2 separate regions of the Homo sapiens genome follow, and region 2 is linked to region 1. A link means that fine-mapping ties the variant in region 1 to the expression of a gene that starts in the linked region. Tissue or cell type: fibroblasts. Region 1 holds a variant in brackets; the other region holds the start of a gene. All regions are shown on one strand. Distances are from middle to middle.

Evidence for each region. PIP is the estimated chance that this variant, and not a neighbour inherited with it, causes the effect.
Region 2: it holds the start of SEPTIN6, and the variant in region 1 is fine-mapped to the expression of SEPTIN6 in fibroblasts (GTEx, PIP above 0.99).

Annotation. Positions count from the first base shown.
Region 1 is chrX:119,724,155-119,732,257 of GRCh38, reverse strand. No RefSeq gene overlaps it. Among named protein-coding and RNA genes, the nearest start is that of SOWAHD, 30 kb to the left of the region's middle. The variant G/T (reference allele first, on the strand shown) is at 3,689.
Region 2 is chrX:119,689,625-119,697,727 of GRCh38, reverse strand. SEPTIN6 (septin 6) reads left to right here and starts at 4,560. Exons shown (of 11, transcript NM_145799.4): 1 at 4,560-4,652. The coding sequence starts at 4,623. RefSeq lists enhancers at 939-998, 4,547-4,676, 5,497-5,546 and silencers at 4,317-4,366, 4,877-5,006.

The DNA of each region.
Region 1 (8,103 bases):
TGAAGCTAGAGTGTACCAAGGTCATCCATGCCCTCCCTTTATGCTGTCAAATCCAGCAGTTGGGTCTGAGTCCTCACCTTACTGGACCCTCTCAGCAGCATTGGACATTGTCGATCACCCCATCCTCCTTGCAACTCCTGCTTCCCTTGGCTTCTGGGACACCCAGCTCTCCTGGTTTTCCTTTGAGCTCCCTAGCCAGTCAGTCATTCCTCAGTGCCTTCCTTCTGCTGGTCCTGCTGGCTCCATCCTCTAGAGTCTGGAGATTGGGGAGCCATGGGGCTCGGACCTCGTCCACTTGTCTCTATGTACTCGCTCCCTTGAGAATCTCATCTCATCCAGGTCTTTCAATGACCCCTCTGCACAGACGCCTGCTGCTCCGATCCTTCCTCTGAATTCCAGACACACAGATCCAGCTGCTGTCCAGCAGCCTGCTGACAGCTCCCCTTGGAGCTCTAATAAGCTTCTCAAACTTAGCCCATCCATAGTGAAGTCTTCCTAGTTGCTTGGGTGAAAATCTGCCAGCCATCTAAATGCCTCTCTTTCCTCTCACATCTCAACACAGTCTCAGCAAACACTTCCTGCCCTTCTTAGAATGAGATCCCCACTCCTTGCCATGGCTCACAAGGTCCTCCATGAAAACATGACTGAGTCTTCTGCAATCTCACCTCCTCCCTCTCCTACCAACTTCATCCCCACCCCGACCTGCACTGAGGATGCTCCAGTCCTCCACCACCCCGCCTCTGGCTCCTTGATCACACCGAACACTCTCCCACCTCAGGGCCTTTGCACCTGTAGTTCCCTCTGCCTCGTGTGATCTTTCCCAGTTCACTCATGAAGCAGGCTCCCCCACTTCATTCAGTCCTGCTCCAATGTCACCTGCTCAGGGAAGGCCTCCCTGACCACCCTGTTGAAAATAACACCCTCTGGTCCCTCTCTGTTCCCATCCCCTGCTTTGTTTTTATCCAGAGGCATCTCGTACTTGCATTTGCTTCAAATCTACCTCCCTAGAAAGTAAGCTCCATAATTTTAGGGACTTGGTGTTTTTCACTACCGTCATTGTCACCACCCAGCACAGTATGTGACACATATGTGTTGAATCAGAGAATGAATGAATCTAAGCATGTTGCTCTCCTCGCTTAAAATCCCGAGATGCTCCATCACATCTCCGTGCTTTTGCCCATGCTGTTCCCTCTGCTCAGAATGTCCTTCCCCTTCCTAGCCTGCCTGGAAAACTTTTAGTCATCCCTCAAGACCAGAGCCCACTGTCGCCACCTTTGTGAAGCCCCTAGTTGCTGTAAGAGACACCTATATTTAGGCCGGGCACGGTGGCTCATGTCTGTAATCCCAGCACTTTGGGAGGCTGAGGTGGGCGGATCACCTGAGGTCGGGAGTTTGAGACCAGCCTGACGAACATGGAAAAACCCCGTCTCTACTAAAAGTACAAAATTAGCTGGGCATGGTGGCGCATGCCTGTAATCCCAGCTACTCAGGAGGCTGAGGCAGGAGAATCGCTTGAACCCAGGAGGTGGAGGTTGCAGTGAGCCAAGATCGCACCATTGCACTCCAGCCTGGGCAACAAGAGCAAAACTCCATCTCAAAAAAAAAAAAAAAAAAAAAAAAGAAAGAAAGAATAAAAAAGAGAGACACCTATATTTTCTCCTCTATATTAAAACAAAACAAAACAAAACAAAATTCAACTCCAATCATGTTTCCCTTGCCTCTCCCAGGCAACACCTCAACACCTTTTCTGGAGGGAAATTACTGTACCAGAAAAGATAGTTAATTTTAAAAAAAAGTTTTTTTTGAGACAGAGTCTCGCTGTGTTGCTAGGCTGGAGTGCAGTGGTGCAATCTCAGCTCACTGCACCCTCCACCTCCCGGGTTCAAGCAATTCTCCTGCCTCAGCCTCTCAAGTAGCTGGGACTACAGGTGCGTGCCACCACGCCCAGCTAATTTTTGTATTTTTATTAGAGACAGGGTTTCACTGTGTTGGCCAGGCTGGTCTCGAACTCCTGATCTCATGATCCGCCTGCCTCGGCCTCCCAAAGTACTGGGATTACAGGCGTGTGTCGCAGCACCGGGCCTTTTATTTATTTGTTTATTTTTTCAAATAACGGGGAACCTGGAGGCAGAAACTTGGTGAGTCACAAGGGGGCAGCAAAGTGTTCCCACTCGGAGGAAGGCTACAAAGCCTTTCATCATCAGCTAGCAGCAACAATCGGTTTAAACCATGTAGCAATAAAGGATTAGCCACTGGATTTAGTAACAACTGGTCATCACCCACTCCAGTGTCAGTATTTGAAAAAGAAATAGGATTGTAAAATCTCAGCTCAGCCATTTCGTATACGCCCTTGGGCCAATCGCAATCTATTTGACCCTGGTTTCCTCATCTGTAAACTAGGGATACCTGCTTCCGAATGTCACTTCCTCATATGGTTGTCTTGATAATTAACTAGGATGATGAAGGTAATAGATGAGCTGCCTGGAGTGTAGTAAGTGTTCATATGTAAAATACTATTATTACCATATAAAGAACCAAGGGAACTGAGTGTTGCTGAATACCTAGTACGGGCAAAGGCACTTTGAATCCTTAATCAAGTGATGAATGATGAGAAGTTAAATGAGAGGTTGAATGACAAAGTGAGAGGTTAAGTGACATGCCCAAGGCCACATAGCTAGCAACAACAATAGCGGTTCACACCTAGCAGGTACTTACTATGTGCCATGCCAGGCAACCACAGTTCTAAGTACTTTGCATCTTTGCATGAGCAATTTTTTTTTTTTTTTGAGACAGGGTCTCACTCTGTCTCCCAGGCTGGCGTGCAGGGGTGCGATCTCAGATCACTGCAACCTCTGCCTCTTGGACTCAAGTAATCCACCCACCTCAGCCTCCCGAGTAGCTGGGACCACAGACACTTGCCACTATGCCTGGCTCATTTTTTAGTATTTTTTGTAGAGACGGCGTTTCGCCATGTTGCCCAGGCTGGGAGCTATCTCCCTTCTTACAATGATCCCGAGAAAAGAATTTTTATCTGAGGAATGCAGGTCAGGCCGGGAGAGACATTAAAATGAGACTGAAATCAGGCCCTACTCCCCACTTTGAACTGTGTATTCATCTCTTGAAATTGCTTGCTATTGCCATAAATAGCTATAAATTAACCCAATAATGCCACACCAGACACTACAACCCACAGTCTGTAGCTTAACAATGTTATTTCTGTAAATCAATGAGAATTCCTGACAAACAACTTTGCATCAGTCCACTCCTTGTCCCCTACTTTTGCCTTCAAAACTCCACCTGTAACTGCTAGTAATTGAAGTGTACATTCAGGGAAACTTGACTTTCTGCTCTCAGGTTGCAATCTTCAAGCTTGGCCCACATAAACTCTCTACTTACATTAATTTTGCCCAAGCTGCTTCTTTTTAGGTCGACAATCCTATGGAGTATGTACCCTTATTATGCCCATTTGAAAGAAGACTGAGGCACAAATAACTGGGCTAAAGTCACGCTGTGGAGTGTGGAGCTGGGCTAAGAGCGGAGGCAGTCTGGCTCCTGAGCCAGGGCTCTCGCTGCCCTGCCACCTGGCGGAGATGAGATCAAGCTGAGGAAAGCTTGTCATGGTCAAGATGAGGAAAAACTCAAGCCCTTTCCACCACCCTAGGCTGCTTTGAAACTAGCTTGCCTCAAA[G/T]CCTGCTCCAGACTATTGAAAAACAAAACCAACACTCCCCCACCTCAACCCCATTATGCCCCTCTTCAGCCACTGGTTTCTCCCTCTTCCCCATCATAACTGCACTTTCTTCGTGGCTCACTGCAATCTCCGCCTCCTGGGTTTAAGCGATTCTCGTGTCTCAGCCTCCCAAGTAGCTGGGATTACAGGCGAGTGCCACCACGCCCAGCTAATTTTTGTATTTTTAGTAGAGATGGATTTTTGCCATGTTGGCCAGGCTGGTCTCGAACTCCTGACCTCAGGTGATCTGCTCTCCTCGGCTTCCCAAAGTGCTGGGATTACAGATGTGGGCCACTGTGCCGGGCCAAGAATAAGAAATTGATTGTAAGGCCAGGCACGGTGGCTCACGCCTGTAATCCCAGCACTTTGGGAGGCTGAGGTGGGCGGATCACGAGGTCAGGAGTTCGCGATCAGCCTGGCCAATGTGGTGAAACCTCGTCTCTACTAAAAATACAAAAATTAGCTGGGTGTTGTGGCGTGCACCTGTAGTCCCAGCTTAGTTGGGAGACTGAGGCAGGAGAATTGCTTGAACCCGGGAGGCGGAGGTTGCAGTGAGCCAAGATCGCGCCACTGCACTCCAGCCTGGGCAACAGAGCAAGACTCTGTTTCAAAAAAAAAAAAAGGCCAGGCGCGGTGGCTCATGCTTGTAATCCCAGCACTTTGGGAGGCTGAGGCGGGCAGATCACGAGGTCAGGAGATCGAGACCACGGTGAAACCCCGTCTCTACTAAAAATACAAAAAAAAAAAAAAAAATTAGCTGGGCGCGGTGGTGGGCGCCTGTAGTCCCAGCTACTGGGAATGGCGTGAACCCGGGAGGCGGAGCTTGCAGTGAGCCGAGATTGCGCCACTGCACTGCAGCCTGGGTGACAGAGCGAGACTCCGTCTTAAAAAAAAAAAAAAAAGAATTGATCGTAAGTTAACTGAAAGTTATAAGCTAAAGAAAAAATGTGTCTGAAGTTAGCCTTGTCAGGTGTAAGTCTGAATCCCCACGTCCTACCCCTGCCCAGCAGTGGAACAAGGAGAGGCAGGGCCCCTACCCGGGCTCCTGCAACTAGAGGAGCTTAGCAGGATGAGTCAAGGAGCAAGTCCAAACTGAAATTCATTAGAGAGAAGCTGCAAATTAAGCCTCAAGGAGACCAAGGGCAAATGCTAAAACAAAGAGTCAGACACCAGACCACAAACGGATGCAAAGCTAGGCTATGAAGCTGAGAGTTTATTGTCAGCCAGAGACACAGTCAGGCGAATGTAAGTCATACACAAGCAAGGAAGATCCAGGGCAATGCGATCAAACAATCTTAGGGCAGGTTCTTGGTGCTTTAGGTGTGTTGGGGTGTTTTAAAGTCTGCATTCAGGGCAGGCAGGTTAGCACTGCAGTGGAGATGATACATCAGGCTATCATTGCTTGCTGTCTTTCGACATTAGAGCCATCCAGCTAGGCACTTTGCTCTGGTTCTGTGGTCACTAAGCAACTTCTTGATTAAAATGTGGCCTCCCACGTAGGTGTGCTTTACTGAGAGATAATGGGCTGGCTAGCCAGCATGAGTAGTCCTTCTCTCCTGGCCTTTATTTCTCACTGTAATGTTTTCTCAAAATGAAATATACTTGATTACATTCTCTTATTACAAAAGTAATATATGCTAATTATAGAAAATATAGACAGGCAAAAAGGGAGCATAAAGATCATCCATAATCCTCCAATCCAGAACAACTACTGTTAAGAGCTTCATATTAGTTGTTTTTTTTTGTTTGTTTTTGTTTTGTTTTGTTTTGTTTTGAGACAGGATCTTGCTGTCACCCAGGCTGGCATGCTGTGGTGTGATCTCAGGTAACTGCAACCTCTGCTTCCCGGGTTCAAGTGATTCTCCTGCCTCAGCCTCCAGAGTAGCTGGGACTACAGGCACGTACCACCATGCTTGGCTAGTTTCTTTTGTATTTTTAGTAGACACGAAGTCTCACCATGTTGGCCAGGCTGGTCTTCAACTCCTGGCCTCAAGTGATCCGCCTGACTCGGCCTCTCAAAGTGCTGGGATTACAGGGGTGAGCCACTGCTCCTGGCCAGATGCTTTTTTTTTTTTTTTTTGAGACAAGTCTCGCTCTGTTGCCCAGGCTGGAGTGCAGTGGCGCAATCTCAGCTCACTGCAACCTCCGCCTCCCGGGTTCAAGCAATTCTCCTGCCTCAGCACCCCCTAGTAGCTGGGATTACAGGCATGTGTCACCACACCTGGCTATTTTTTGTATTTTTAGTAGAGATGGGGTTTCACCATGTTGGCCAGGCTGGTCTCGAACTCCTGACCTCAGATGATCCACCTGCCTTGGCCTCCCAAAGTGCTGGGATTACAGGTGTGAGCCACCGTGCCTGGCTGATCCTTCTTATATGTATATTTACCTACAGCACATATACGTATGGTCATATACACATATTTACTATTGGTATTCTATCTTTTCCTTTTTTTGATTTAAAACTTCTTCAATTATGCAATGATACCTGAGTACATTTTCTTTCTTTCTTTCTTTTTTTTTTTTTTTGAGACGGAGTTTTGCTCTTGTTGCCCAGGCTGGAGTGCAATGGCGCGATCTCGGCTCACCACAACCCCCGCCTCCTGGGTTCAAGGGATTCTCCTGCCTCAGCCTCCTGAGTAGCTAGGATTACAGGCATGCTCCACCACACCGGGCTAATTTTTTGTATTTTTAGTAGAGACAGGGTTTCTCCATGTTGGTCAGGCTGGTCTCGAACTTCTGACCTCAGGTGATCTGCCTGCCTCAGCCTCCCAAACTGCTGGGATTCCAGGCGTGAGCCGCTGCGCCCAGCTTATGAGTACATCTTCATAAAATACTTTAAAAAATATTTTAATTAAGAGGGGGGTGGGTCTTGCTATTGTTGCCCAGACTGGTTTCGAACTCCTGGGCTCAAGCAATCCTCCCACCATAGCTTCCCAAGCAGCTGGGATTACAGGTGTGTATCACCATGGCCTCGCAAAATTTTAAGATGATATAGAATCATGTAGAGTAAAATATTAAGGACCTCCAAAACAACTCATAGTAAATAGCTTTGTATTTATCCTTGCAGTTTTTTTATGCATTTATATATCAATATTACATACTATTAAAATAGAAGACCTAGTATCTTACTATCATACTTTAAAAAAATTTTTTTTTTTTTTTTTGAGATGGAGTCTTGCTCTGTTGCCAGGCTGGAGTGTAGTGGTGCGATCTTGGCTCACTGCAACCTCCCCCTCCTGGGTTCAAGCGAGTCTCCTGCCTCAGCCTCCTGAGTAACTGGGATTACAGGCACCCACCATCACACCTGGCTAATTTTTGTATTTTTATTAGAGACAGGGTTTCACCATGTTGGCCAGCTCTGGTTTCGAACTCTTGACCTCAGGTGATCTGCCCGCCTTGGCCTCTGAAAATGCTGGGATTACTGGCGTGAGACACTGCGCCTGGCCCCATCATACTTTTTAGTAACTGCCTATTTTTACTAAAGATTCTATCATGAACATCTAATCACATCAATAAATACAATTTACATTATCATTTTTAAAGGCCACACAGTATTCTATTGTATGAATGCACCACGATTTATTTATTTATTTATTTATTTATTGAGATGCAGTCTCGCGCTGTCACCAGGCTGGAGTGCAGTGGTGTGATCTCGGCTCACTGCAACAACCTCCGCCTCCAAGGTTCAAGGGATTCTCCTGCCTTAGCCTCCCGAGCAGCTGGGACTACAGGTGCATGCCACCACGTCTGGCTCATTTTTTGTATTTTTAGTAGAGACAGGGTTTCACCATGTTGGCCAGGATGGTCTTGAACTCCAGACCTCATGATCCGCCTGCCTCGGCCTCCCAAAGTGCTGGGATTACAGGCGTGAGCCACCACGCCCTACCCTGATTTATTTAATTAATGAAATAATTTGGAAATTTGTCCCCACCCAAATCTTATGTTGAATTTTAATCCCCAATGTTGGAGGTGGGGCCTGGTGGGGTATTTGGGTTATGGGGTGGATCCCTTCATGGCTTGGTGCTGTCCTCGTGATAGTGAGTTCTCACAAGATCTGGTTGTTGTAAAGTGTGGCACCTTCCCCTGCCCTTTCTATTTCCTCACTCCTGCTCCCGCCATGTGAGACACCTGCTCCCACTTTGCCTTTTTCCACGAGTTAAAATGCTCCCTAAAGCTTTCCCAAAGCCTAGCAGATGCCAGTGCCACACTTCCTGTACAGCCTGCAGAATTGTGAGCCAATAAGACCTCTTTTTTTTTATATAAATTACCCAGTTCCAGGTATTTCTTTATAGCAACACAAGAATGGCCTAATACAACTAATATCCTAATTTTTTATTTTTTATTTTTATTTTTTGAGACAAGGTCTTTTTCTGCCA
Region 2 (8,103 bases), 35 kb after region 1:
CATCCTAGAAGTTCTGATTCAGTAGGTCTCGGGTGGGGCCCAATAATTTGCATTTTTTATAACTTCCCATATGCTGCTGATGCTTCAAAGGCCACATTTTAAGAAACACTGGAAAGAAACTAAAGCAAAACCAGGGGCAGCAGGTGATAATGCAGAATTGAGGAAAGGGATCTTTAGTTCATTTTGACTCAGCCCCTTCACAGAGTTTCTGATTTAATTGGCACTGTCTGGATTTGGTGAATCCCGGATCATTTTCCCTGCTTCACCTTGTCTTCCTCCTCCAACTTTCTTCTCTTTCTTTTCTTTTCTTTTCTTTTCTCTCTCTCTCTCCCCCTCCCTTTCTTTTTTTTGATGGAGTCTCGCACTGTCACCCAGGCTGGAGTACAGTGGCACAATCTCGGCTCACTGCAACCTTCACCTCCCAGGTTCAAGCAATTCTCCTGCCTCAAGTAGGTGGGACTACAGGCATGCGCCACCACACCCGGCTAATTTTTGTATTTTTAGTAGAGACGGGGGTTTCACCATGTTGGCTAGGCTGGTCTCGAACTCCTGACCTCAAGTGATCCACCTGCCTCAGCCTCCCAAAATGTTGGGATTACAGGCATGAGCCGCCACGCCCGGCCCCTCCTCCAACTTTCTGATCTTATTTTTCAGATGGTTCTCAGGGCTTCTCCACTTGAGACTGACTCTACCATCTTTCTCGTTCTCCTATCACAAAGCCACAGTTTCAGGACAAAGCCCTTTCCTGACCTCTTAGCTCCATTTCAGTGCCCTCTTCTCCCTCCCTGCCCCTGAGTTGCTTGCTGCTCCTCTATCCAGTATTAGCACCCCCAACTCCAGCAGTGACCTGTGGAAAGCTGGGCTCCAATTAGGGCCCACTCTTATCTAGCAGGGGTAGCCATTTCTGCTCCCAGGCAGTAGAGTCTGGCTCCACAAACATTGGCATGCTAATGACAGCCACCTGCTTGCCCCTGGGAAGTCTCTGTTTGTTGCAGCTTCTTTAAGGACATGGAAATACTGAAGCCACCTCATTTACATGCTTCTGTTCATTCCTTTACTCAACAAACATTGATTGAACACCTGCCAGACACCATGCTGGGCCCAAGGGACCCCACAAGGAAACATCAAACATGAGCACATACATGTTCATGGAAGCGCCCGGGAGTCCCAAATGACTCTTCATAAAGGGGAATCTTTTGGCTTCACTCATCAACGAGGACAGACATTCAAGGAAGAAAACTCACGAACTGACCACTCATGAGCCCTCTTGCCTCCTCAGCCCTTCCATCTCCCCTGTTCTTGGGAAGGTGACCCGGGACAAAGACTGAAAGGCATGATTTCAGGCCGGGTGCGGTGGCTCACACCTATAATCCCAGCACTTTGCAAGGCCGAGGCAGGTGGATCACGAGGTCAGGAGTTCAAGACCAGCCTAGCCAAGATGGTGAAACCCTGTCTCTACTGCAAATACAAAAAAAAAAAAAAAAAAAAAATAGCTGGGCGTGGTGGTGGGCGCTTATAGTCCCAGCTGCAGCAGAGAATTGCTTGAACCCAAGAGGCAGAGGTTGCAGTGAGTAGAGATCACGCCACTGCACTGCAGCCTGGATGACAGAGCACTCCGTCTCAAAAAAAAAATAAAAAAGGAAAAAAAAAGAAAGGCATGATCCCAGAGAGTTTCCAAACCTCTTTATTGAAATGAATGTTCTGATTCACACGTCTCAGTCGTCGGCCCACTGCACTGAGTGAGATAAGGTATGTAAAGCTAGTGAGCTAACACCTCTCTCCATATTGACACACATACACTCACCATGCATTGAAATACACTGACACACCAACACATGCCAACACACACATTGACACACAGATATACAGACACACAGCTAGCACACACTGACAATACACACGAACACACCGACACATCTACTCACACATCAAGACCAACACACACACTGACCCACACCCCACCGAAGGAGGCTGGAGGCCCAGGCCCCAGGAGGGACTTGTAGCCGCAGGTGGGCAGGTATTGGAGGAACCAAAGGGTCCCAGGAGACTTGAATTAAGCACTTAGTTCAGGTCTTCGAGGTTCAGCGTTTTGGAGGAGGAGGACGCAGTGAGGTTCTGGTAGTCTCTAGGGACAGGAGGGCCGAATGGGGCATATGGATGAGACACCAAGGATTCCGTGCTCAGGTGCCCCCAGCGCTGGGCCGGTAAGTACGGAGCTTCAGTCCGCGAGGAGTGCTAAGGCGGGCGGGGCAGTGCGTGGGGGATTCTCCCGGGAGACCCGCAGCCCTCCAGTCCCCTCCCGTTCCGGCAGCAGCTTTCTGCTCTGGCTTCCAAATTCTCCCCTTTTGTCCCACCACCACCCAAACCCCAAGTCCAGATCGGGGCTAGTGACCTCGGGGCCTTTCAGTCCACCACGCCCTAGCCTTTGCCAGGGAAGAGCCCTGTCCCAGACACCCAGCCTGGAAGCCGCCAGTCACCTCTGACTCCCCGCCCCCATGCGGTTGGGGCCCAAGCCTCACCGTGGTTCCTCAGATATAGCACTGGTCCCCCGTGTCACTGCCAACCCAGTCCAGGGCTCAGGCCCTGCCCCAAAGCTCCAGAGAGTCTGAAAGACTCCAGCTGCCCCTCTTCCTTGCCACCGCCATCCGCCCTATGGCCTGCGCCTTCTGTCTCGCGGAGCTCCTCTGCGCTGATCCCTGATTTTGCCAGGCTCTTCTCTTTAGGCCGCTCCTGGGTCTCCAGCACAATGAAGGCGCACAGTGGCGCTCCCTGAATACTTGGCTCTTCATGACTGTCCTTACTGCTATTCCCTCACTGTGTCTCTTCTTTCTTCTCCCCGCCCCCCTCGCACGCATCCAAGTTCTCTGCCCTCAGCTTAATAGAGTGCCTCCTGACTGCGAGGCCCTGCACTCGGCCCTGGGATGCGTTTGCTGAGTCCTTGTTCTCCAGGCGCACAGGGTACATACATAAAGGGCTTCCCGAGAGAGTGTGAGAAGCTCCATCCAGCAGGTGGAACCAAGTGCCAGGCATGCTCTTCTTTGGCTACTCCATTTTCTTGTCTTCCCTGACTTCTCCGAGACCAGGGCCTCTGGATCGAGTCCCTTCTTCCTCTCTCTCCCTGGTTCCTTCTTTTCTTTTTCCCTCTCTCCTGCCTCCTCCTCAGCTGCTCCAGCCTTGGGCCTTTACGGGGTCATCTTCCATGCTCCATTGGGGCCCCCTCTTGGGCCCGGGTTTCCTCCATAGCCTTGTCATCCCCTCCCCCATCTGGGGTCCCTCTGGCGGGCCCAGGTCTCTCTCCCACACCAGGGAACCTGCCCTTTTGAGGAGTGGAATGTACTGTCCCTCCCGCTGGGGCCTCGGGCATGCCAAATCTGCCAGCGTGCTCCAGTGACAGGGAGCTAGCAAGAGGCCAGTCCCAAGAGAGAGGGGAGGGCGCCAAGGCCGGAGAAGTGGAGAGGTGCCCACGAGAGAGGACCCGCGGAGGTGGGCCACGGGGATAAGGAGGGCGGGCGGGCGCACCCCTGCCTTCGGAAGTTCTCTCCTCTGCGCCCTATTGGCCGCCTTGTCCCGGGCTGAATGAGGGTCAAGGAGAAATCAGGGGGCGGGACAGAGTGACTGGAGGCCGCTCCCCGTCACCCGCCCCTCCATTTCGCTCCATAGAGCTGAGAACCTTCATCTCCAGCCCTTCCTCTGGTACTAGAAGGGGTGGGTGGTCTTGCTGAGCGTCTAGGGCTGGGTCGGAGAGAGGAGGCGTGGGTTCCGTCTGTACTAGGTACCCAAAGGTGGTGAGCTTGGCTCCACGAAATTACAGCCCACAGCACCCAAGGCTTGGAAACCCCAGGGCAGAAGCAGCGTCTCAAGACCTCTAGCCTCGGACCCCACATGCCACAGCTCAGCTCAGTTGCCGGGCTGCAGTGCGGCTCCCCCCACGGGCCCCCTTTCTAAGCTCTACTGTGGAGCGGCAGGTGCCGCAGGCCTCCCCGGTACCTCGGCCGCAGCTGCGCTCCCGGGCCATGGAGGGAGGGAGACACGACAGTGGGGCATCGAGACTCCAGCGGCCAAGGCGCACCCATCTAAGCACCTTGGGATCTCGGTGGAAAGGAAGGGGGGTAACGGGGGCCGGGAGGAGAACTGCAGAGCTCGGCCGCTGAGCAGAGTATGGGAGGGGGGAGGGGCGGGGGCTCCCTTCCAGCCTTCGGGGTCTGGGGACTTAGGGATGTAAAGGAGAGCAGGGGGGTGTGACAATTCAGCAGAGGTCGGGACGTACCACGGAGCCAAGTGGCGGGGGGGGCAGAGGACGTGGTCACCGAGGGGAGCCCCCGCCCCCCTTCGTAGAAGCCTATGGCTGGGGTTGCAGGAAGAACTGGAACTGGTCTGGCCATAGGGGGAAGCGGCGCGTTAAATCCGCCCCCTCTCCATACCCTACTTTCAAGGGGTGGGCGGTAGAGGGGAGGTTGGGGTTGGAGCAGCGGCGAGGGGGCCCCTCCCTTGCACCTCCCCCCACCGGACTTGGTCGCGCCCGAAGTGTAACACTTTCTCTTTGTCGGAGGAGCTCCTCTGTTTCCTGTGCAGTAGCTCCCGTTGCGGCGGCACCCGTGGCAGCCCTGGCGGACGCAGGAGCGATGGCAGCGACCGATATAGCTCGCCAGGTGGTAAGTGCAGAGCTTGGGTGCCAGGGCCGGGGCCGAGGGCCTGGTGAGGGTCAAGGAGACCTGGCCGCCGCCGCCACATCGCGAGGAGGGCAGTGGGCAGCATCCAGGAGCCAAGGGCACGGTGGGACTTCTGCTCCCGGGGTCAGCAGCTCAGTCCCTCAGCCTGTCCCGGAAAACGGTGGTGGCGCGCGGGGGGCGGGGGGCGGCAGGGGGGCAGGCAAAACCTGCGGGCCGGCGGCTGAACTTGCATTGCCCAAGAGCCGCAGTGAGCGCCACCGCCTCCCTCGCTGCAGCTGCGGCCCCACGGCTGGGGCGTTGCCGAATGAATGGCCGTAGGAGCCGCCGAGCCCTCCGGGTCCCTGGCACCCTGGCCTTGCCGCGCCCCTGCGCACGGCTGCCCGTTGTGACCCGGGACCGCACAGGCAAAGAGGCGCGGGGCTGGGGTTAGCCTGGGGCAGAAGGCGGTGAGTGGCGAGGGGGGCGGGGAGGTGACTGGCTGGGATAGGGTTTCTCTATATGCATTACATATGTGACTGCGTCTGTGTGTGTATCGGTGTGCGCGTATGTGTGCACGCGCGCGCGCTCGTGTCTTCCCGGGCGGGCGGCGGCGGCGCCGGGGTTCTGTCTGTGACCCAAAGAAGTCCGCGTGTTTCTCTGAGTGTGCTCACCTCTGTGGTGTGTGTCCGAACGCCTCTCTGTCTGCTTGTGCTGTGTGCCTCTGGGTCTCATTTGTGCGTCAGTGTGGGGTGCAGTTGGCTGGCCTGTAGGTGGCTGGCTGCGTATTTTGGCATGTTTTGGAGCGGGCCTCTGAGGATCTGTCTCGGGTGCATGTTCAGTGTAACTGGGCTTGTGTGCCAAAACCTGTGGAGCTGGCTTCTTTCTATGGAGACTCAGGAAAATAAGTGTGAGACTCGCAAAAGCGGTGCCGTCTCTTTTTTTGTTGGCGACCGACTCTGGGAAAAAAAAAATCTTCATTTAAAGAACTGAAGTTTTCCAGCCTGGGATGTGCAGAGAAACCATGTTGAAGTGACCTGAGGCTCCATGTTTGTTTTTTAAACCAGAAGTTTGGTTGCAAAGGGCGATGAATTCCATTTGGGGGGGACACCCTAGCTATTCTATTCATCCATGGGTATCTGGGACTTTAATAAGCCCACCAGCACCCCGAGGTGAGGAAGGAGTGGGAGACAGAGGTAGGTCAAATCCCATGACACCACATACTACTTGACGAAAATCTCTGAACCACATAAAAATGTTTTTCAACCTTGTAGCTTACTTATTTAGGAAAATAGTTCATGCAATGCAACTACAGTACAAAAAAAAAGCCTCTAGGTATTTGGTGTAATTGAAATTGATTTTACAAAATCTGAAGCCAGAATCTGATAATATTTTCTCTACAGAATATGTATTAATGTCTCTTTTGTCCCTGTTTGGAAGGGCAGGATCATTTCTTCGGAACCTCCTCCACCCCCTGCACACCCTAGCACAGAGCACTTTATGCAGTCATGTTGTGGAAGGACCAGGAGTAGACAGGGGACATTCTCTGTGATGATGCAATTTGAGAGAATTTTCTTCCCCCAAGATTGGCACTCTCGTTGTTTATTGCTTTAGTGTTTTGAGGGCTCCCTCTTTTCTGCTGTGGCTTTTCTGCTCCTGGTTACCTGCATTTCAGAGATGGTATAGCTGAAGTAGAGGAATTAATCTCTGGGATTACACTAGCTCCATCCAAAAATGACGCTAATGATTTTTCATGTCAGCTAATGAATTTGCATCGACCTGTCCTCCATACTCTCACCAGTTTCTCTTGCCTGGATTAGGATTGCAGGGCAGATGTTGCAATGGGGAACATTCCAGAAGGTTGTGTGTGTTTCACCTCAGGCACAACTCAGGCAACCTAGAGATGCCCTTTGTTCTGCAGATGGGGGTGAGGGGGTGCTTTAGGGCCACTTGGTTTGCTTTGCATGGCTCCAGTTTGCTCTGGCTGGCCTTGCCATACTGTATGATGAAGAACATAATTGTACGCCAGATTCTGAAGCTGAAAGAGCAGCCTAAGCACTCGAGACCTTGTTATCGTGATAAATGGGTTTCTGGGAAAACTGACGTCACTCTCCATGCCCCCCTCCCCCAGCCAGTGAAGCTCCTGTTTATGTGTCATTTGTCTCTCTGTTCTCCTTTGTGTCTGCAATAAGTTGTAATTCACCAGGGAAGACGGAGTTAACTCAGGAGACCTTGGACATCTGGTTGCTGCTTGTTTCCTCCAAGGAACATGTATTCAGGGTTTGGGAACAGAAGACTAGAGAATAAACCTAAGTGTGGCTAGCTTAGGAATTCTTTTTTTTTTTTTTTTTTTTTTTTGAGACGGAGTCTTGCTCTGTTGCCCAGGCTGGAGTGCAAGTGGCATGATCTCGGCTCACTGCAACCTCAGCCTCCCAGGTTCAAGCGATTCTCCTGCCTCAGCCTCCCGAGTAGCTGGGATTACAGGCACCCGCCACCACACCTGGCTAGTTTTGATATTTTTAGTAGAGGGGGGTTTTCACCATGTTGGCCAGGCTGGTCTCGAACTCCTGACCTTGTGATCCACCCGCCTCAGCCTCCCAAAGTGTTGGGATTACAGGCATGAGCCACTGCTCCCGGCCAGGAATTCTTTTTAATGAGCTCTGAGACGTGGTACCATGCGAGTAAGTGCCCTAGTGTGTGTGTGTGTGTGTGTGTGTGTGTGTGTGTGTGTGTATGTGTATGTATGTGGGGGGTGTGTTCTTTCTAGAATCAGTTGAGAGTCACTGTGGGTAAACATCCTTAGTGACTAAAACAAGCCTTCAAGTTGTTGGGTAGGGCTTACATTGCACGCAGCCAACTTGGAAGTTCAATTCTGGTGCACATAATACAAGTCCGTCCCATTTGAATGAACACCACAAACGGTTTGGTGTGACAACACCATTTCTCCACTGTGTCCATATTTACTTGATTGACTGATATGTGGCCAGCACTATGGTTAGCCCTTGTCAACTGGACAAAAAAAGGTAGCAGGCTTTAAAAAACGTTCGTGATCGGACTGGGCTTGGTGGCTCATGCCTGTAATCCCAGCACTTTGGGAGGCTGAGGTGGGCAGATCATGAGGTCAGGAGTTCGAGACCAGCCTGGCCAACATGGTGAAACCCCGTATCTACTAAAAATACAAAAATTAGCCAGGCGTGGTGGTGCGTGCCTGTAATCACAGCTACTCAGGAGGCTGAGGCAGAAGAATCGCTTGAACCCTGGAGGCAGAGGTTGCAGTGAGCCAAGATTGCACCACTGCACTCCAGCCTGGGCAACAGAGCGAGACTCCATCTCAAAAAAGAAAAAAAAGAGGCCGAGGTGGGTGGATCACAAAGTCAGGAGATCGAGACCAGCCTGGCTAACATGGTTAAATCTCATCTCTACTAAAAATACAAAAAATTAGCCAGGCGTGGTGGCG